Regions from separate parts of the Homo sapiens genome. Here region 2 is linked to region 1. Evidence: fine-mapped expression QTL. A gene starts in region 1. The other region holds a variant in brackets. All regions are shown on one strand. Distances are from middle to middle. Region 1 holds the start of BNIP1 (BCL2 interacting protein 1). Region 2 overlaps SH3PXD2B (SH3 and PX domains 2B).

Evidence for each region. PIP is the estimated chance that this variant, and not a neighbour inherited with it, causes the effect.
Region 2: its variant is fine-mapped to the expression of BNIP1 in aorta (GTEx, PIP 0.98).

What each region holds. Positions count from the first base shown.
Region 1 is chr5:173,142,996-173,145,900 of GRCh38, reverse strand. BNIP1 (BCL2 interacting protein 1) reads right to left here and starts at 1,370. Exons shown (of 6, transcript NM_001205.3): 1 at 1,272-1,370. The coding sequence starts at 1,355. RefSeq lists enhancers at 638-707, 649-1,177.
Region 2 is chr5:172,437,039-172,439,943 of GRCh38, reverse strand. The region is part of intron 1 of SH3PXD2B (SH3 and PX domains 2B); the gene reads left to right. Among named protein-coding and RNA genes, the nearest start is that of SH3PXD2B, 16 kb to the left of the region's middle. The variant G/C (reference allele first, on the strand shown) is at 1,440.

The DNA.
Region 1 (2,905 bases):
CTCTGGCTTATTCATTTAATCACACTTCTTTGCACCGTATTTGTTTATTCTGCATCTAATTTGGTTTATTCTGCATCTGGTTTATCTGGGGAGCCCTATTTTCCTGCACTTTTTGCCACACCTTGTTACAAACTCTGAGTCTACATCTAATGTTTAGTGACTTTGTTGAAAATGATTATTTTTAAAAACCAAGGTTTAGGCCGGGCGCGGTGGCTCACGCCTGTAATCCCAGCAATTTGGGAGGCCGAGGCGGGCGGATCACGAGGTCAGGAGATCGAGACCATCCTGGCTAACACGGTGAAACCCCGTCTCTACTAAGCAAAACACAAAAATTAGCCGGGCGTGGTGGCGGGTGCCTGTAGTCCCAGCTACTCAGGAGGCTGAGGCAGGAGAATGGCGGGAACCCGGGAGGCGGAGCTTGCCGCGAGTCGAGATCGCGCCACTGCACTCCAGCCTGGGCGACAGAGCGAGACTCCGTCTCAAAAAAACAAAAACAAACAAGCAAAAACAAGGTTTAAAACTCGGTTTCTTTTTGCTGAACTCATGGAACCGTGTCTACACTCCCAATTCTTGCCTAAGTCCACTCGTTTATTTTACCTCTACCCTTAAATGGCTTAAGGCGAAACACTTCATTTCCTATCTGTTCAAACGGGGTAACACTCTAAGGTGTTATTCCTAGGTTGACTTTCACAGTCCAGGTCCCAGTTTTGCCACTGACCCAGGTATGCCTTCTAACCTAGGCCTTGGCGCCGTACTCGATTTCCTCAAGCATAAAATCACAACTACGGTCCAGGTTACATTCGTTTCACCCGGTGCCTCCCGTGCCAGGTGGCCTTGGATGCCAGGAGAGCTGGCCAGCAGGGGGCGGGGCTAGCTGCCTCCCGGACGCTACCAGAGGATGCTGAAGCAGCGTCAGAGGGCGGGGCCAAGCAGGGTGACAGGTAGGTTGTGAGGTAGTCAGGGGCGGGGCGACGACCAGGGCTGCAGGTGGAAGGGGCAAAGCCGAGCCCCGAAGCAGTAGCTGAGTCAGGGGCGGAGAACAGTGGGGTGCTCTGGGGATGGGAGATCCGGCGGCACCCGGAAAAAGGATCAAGGCCAGCAGTCACCGGGACACAACCAAATGGGGACCGGGGGGGTAGCCGACCATGGGGCGGAGCCTGTGGTCTGGGAAACCAAGTGGGGAAAGTTCGGGAGTGACACTGCCAAGCTCACAGACCAGCAGAGCTTGGGTTAGGGCTGCTGGAGCCCGGCAGGGGTCCCGGGATCAGTACCTGAATAAGCGCCTTCACCTCCAGGTCAAATTTGACAATCTCTTGGTTACAGATCCGGACGTGGACGTCTTGGGGAGCCGCCATGTTGGGGACGCCGGCTACGGGCAGCGGCAGGACCCAAGTTCAAACGCGTTTTCGCACCACCTTCTTTCCCTCCCCACCCAGTCTCGGGGCAGCGCCCCCTAGAGACCGGCGAAAATGGCAAGCGAGGGTCACTGCGCAGAGTTGGGACTTTCCCTGACACGTGTAGGGAAATCAGCCTCTCCTCTTGGTATGGCCCTAATAACATGGAGAGGAAGGGAAGAGGGAATATCAAGAACGCTTCACAGTGGTCTCTTTCCATCTTCCTTCTGTCAGGCATTCTAATAACTATATATTTTTTACATAGAAAAAAAAAGACTGGAAGAAAAGTATCAATTGAGATGTCTCTGGAAAGTACCAGTAATAATTTTTTGTTTCTTCAAACTTTCTTATATTTTTAATATTTTCTACAGTGAGTATAAATTGTGGAGTAAAAGAGGAAATGATAAACGTCATATATTTTTTAAAGTATGGAGTTCAAGGCAGGTCGGTAGAGTACCTCCTATCACTCCAACACATGATCTAAGGGATCTTTGTAAAACACGAAATTGATCAAGTCACCTACCTGTATGCAGCCCTTCTATGGCTTCTCGTGTTTCCCTTTTGTATACAACTGGATTTATTAAATCTACCTTGCTAAGGTAGTTTTGATGGAAATGTCAGAGCAAACCCTCAACAAATGGTGGCTCTTTTATTTTTGTTAGTAAATAATCCAAGTTTCTTAGCTGGTCCTCAAGGCCATCAGCCACCCCGGCCATCAGCCACCGCACCCTGCGCCCTTCCTGGATTGCTCAAGCTCCTTCTGGATGTGTAGCCTTAGAATGTGGTGTTCCCTCTCCCTAGAAAGCGTTTCCCCCACTCGACCCCACTCCATCTGCATTTGTTCGGGTCACTTCAGCAAGCATAGATTGTGAGGACCTAAAGGCTTAGGACTTGAATGTTCATCTCTCTCTCTTTTTTTTTTTTTTTTTTTGTGGCGGAGTCTCGCTCTGTTGCCCAGGCTGGAGTGCAATGGCACAATCTTGGCTCACTGCAAACTCTACCTCCCAGGTTCAAGCAATTCTCCTGCCTCAGCCTCCTGAGTAGCTGGGATTACAGGTGCGTGCCACCATGCCCAGCTAATTTTTGTATTTTTCATAGACACGGGGTTCACCATATTGGTCAGGTTGGTCTCGAACTGACCTCGTGATCCACCCGCCTCGGCCTCCCAAAGTGCTGGGATTACAGGCGTGAGCCACTGTGCCCGACCATGTTCATCTCTCTTAATCCTCACAACCACCCTTGAAATTGTACTACACTATTATCACAGATCAGGAGTAGGGCTTAGAGTAAATTAAAACAAAAAACAATCAACCCTGTTGCAAGATTACCTATCTTGAAAGTGGCAAAGCCTAGGCCGGGCACGGTGGCTCATGCCTGTAATCCCAGCACTTTGGGAGGCCGAGGCGGGTGGATCACGAGGTCAAGAGATCGAGATCATCCTGGCTAACACGGTGAAACCCCGTCTCTACTAAAAATATAAAAATTAGCCGGGCGTGGTGGCGGACGCCTGT
Region 2 (2,905 bases), 710 kb after region 1:
CCAGATGTGTGTGAGTAGCAGTGCGTGAGCTGGCAGCCAGAGGCCTGGGCTGGAGCTGCACGCCTGGAGCAGCGAGTGTTTCCACCAGCCCAGTGTCTCAGTCGTCGGCAAGAGTGGAGATGCCTGGCCTGGCCAACCCTGGAAATAGTTCCTGCTGCCCATGCCGCTGGATAAGATTCCATGAGTTAGGGGAGCCCAGAGGGTGGGCAGCTGTGTGTGTGTGTGTGTGTGTGTGTGTGTGTGTGTGTGTGCGCGCGCGTGCGCGCACGCACGCACACACATACCTGGTTTTTACAGCTTGACATTCCCGACTTTTCCTCTTAACATATCTCACTTTGCAAGATTTGAGTTGGCCCAAGGAAGATGGCTACTCGGTTGGGGCCTCCAGTGTCTAATCTCCATAATGGGTTATTAGTGATGGCCCTGGAAGCTGTCTGTGACCAGATGGTGTGCCAAGCACCTGACATGCATTAGCGCCTTTAGCCCTCAGCCAACCCTATAAAGTAGGTACTGTTCTCTCCATTTTCCAGGTGTGAAGAAATGGAAACTCAGAGCTGTGAGGTGATTTGCAAAGTCACAGCAGCATCAGGCTATAGAGGCAGGATTCATAGTCAGGTATTCTAAAGCCGATGCCTGTGGTTTTTTTTTGGGGTTTTTTTTTTGTTTTGTTTTTGTTTTTGTTTTTTTTTTTTCTTTTTTTTTTTTCTGTTTTTTCTGTTTCTGTGGCCCAGGCTGGAGTGCAGTGGCGTGATCTTGCCTCACTGCAGCCTCCACCTCCAGGGTTCAAGTGATTCTCCCACCTTAGCCTCCTGAGTAGCTGGGACTACAGGTGCGCACCACCACAGGCCGGCTAATTTTTGTATTTTTAGTAGAGACGGGGTTTCACCACATTGGTCAGGCTGGTCTCGAACTCCCGACCTCAGGTGATCTGCCCGCCTTGGCCTCCCAAAGTGCTGGGATTACAGGCATGAACCACCACACCCTGCCATCTTTTTTTTTTTTTTAATGACATTAAAGCATGATTGTTATTTTTAATTTTTTACTTTACGTGGATGCTGTAAAATTCCCTTTTGTGGTGTAACGCAGTAAAATTTTGTTTTTTGGTGTAGCATGTTATGATGTGCAGGTTCCTGTAACCTCCACTACAGAACAGTTCCAACACCTCAAAGAATTCCCTCAGCTTTACTGTCTCTGACATACAGTGGGATGAGGCATTCCCCCTGGAGTTTAAATCACTCCTGGGTATTCTGTTTTTTGCCATTACCTCTTCAGAGAAACTCTGGGGTGGAACGTGGACTTCCCTTTTTGGGTTGGGTCCCATGCCTGCATTCCCTCTGTGACAAAGCCAGCTCTGTTTCTGGTACCCTTGGCAATAGAGCTGTTCATTCAGCTATTTCACGAGCATTGTTACTCTCTGGACACAGAGAGCCTTGAGTGAG[G/C]TCACCTTGGTTTTTGACTGTGTGGCCCTGTTTCGGCTTTTTGTCTCTTTTACCGGGCATTTCCTGAGAGCTCATTGTCGCCAGGCACTGGGGGGACCATGGTGAATAGACAAACCCGGCCCTGCCCCAAGGGCCCCCAGGGCAGTGGGGGTGCAGTAATGCAAAGAGACCAGCACCCCTAGAGGAACAGGTTCTGAGAGAGGGTGGCCCTAGCCCTGTGGGAACTCAGAGAGTGGGAGCTAGACTGAGACTTGGGGTGTCCAGGAAGGCTTCCAAGGAGAGGTGACTTCTAGGCTGATGCTGGAGAAATGAAGAGGAGCTGAGCAGGGCAGGGAGAGGAAATGTTCCCGCCAGAGGCAGTGGCAGGCATTGAGTCCTGGAGGCAAGAGAAAGCCAGCCAGGCTGGAGCAGAGGAGGGGCAGACTGCACAGGCCCCTAAGCCCCACGTTGTGCCTGTGTGGTGTGTTTTCTTTCTCGATTGAGGCCCTTCGAGCAGAGCTTGGTGCACAGTAGGTCTCTGTGTATATGCCAAATGAATGAATGAATGAGCTGAAGAGTTTGAGGCAGGGGGAGAGAGATCAGATTCCCACTTTGGAGGCTACTCCTCTCCCCCTACTCCTGCCGCCATTTCCCCATTTGGCACACCTCTGCACACAGGGATAAGCGGAGCCCTCAGCTCAACCAGCCACCTGAGCCTTCGCTGCGTGCCCTGTGGACAGAGTGCAGTAGGAACACAGCCCTAAGTGTCTCATCTGACGCAAGACACCACAAGCACTTGTATTTTGGCCCTAATCCAAGCATTCACTTAATTGAAAAAATTGGGGGAAAAAAATATTGGCAGCCTGCCACCTCCAGTGTGTCACTTGCTGCAGAGCCTGAGCTTGGTGATTCCTGGCGCTGACGTGGGGACCGGAAAGCTCTGGCCTGGGGCCAGGAGACCCAAGGCCTTGGGATGCTGGGAGAAGAAAGTGAAGAGGCTTTGGAGGCTGGCAGGGCTGGGATTGGATCTCATGTCACCCACTTCCCAGCCTCTCGACCTCAGGCGCAGCATGGCTCTGTGCCTCGGTTTCCTCCTCTCCCCCTTCAGCACTTCTGGTGGTGATGCTGCCCTGGGGTGTTGGGAAATCAAACAAACTTTGGGTGCTGCAGTTCCAAAAAGAGGTTGGAGGTGCTGACCTATATAGGCCAGATGTTGGACACAAAGCTGGGGACAGTCAACAGATCAGAACCAAAGGGAACCCAGGGTCTCCACGAAGCGTGGCAGAGTCGGGTTTCCCATTAGTCAAGCCCGTGGAGCTCCATCCGACCGCCCTGCCCTCTCCTCGCTCTCCATCTCTCCCTTGCCCTTGTTGCTTTCCCTTCCCCAGCACCCACGAGGACCATACTTATCCACCTTGGGCCTGTGTGACCAAGACAGCATATTCCCAGAGCAAGCCATCTGCAACCCAGCCAGTCACTAACTCCCA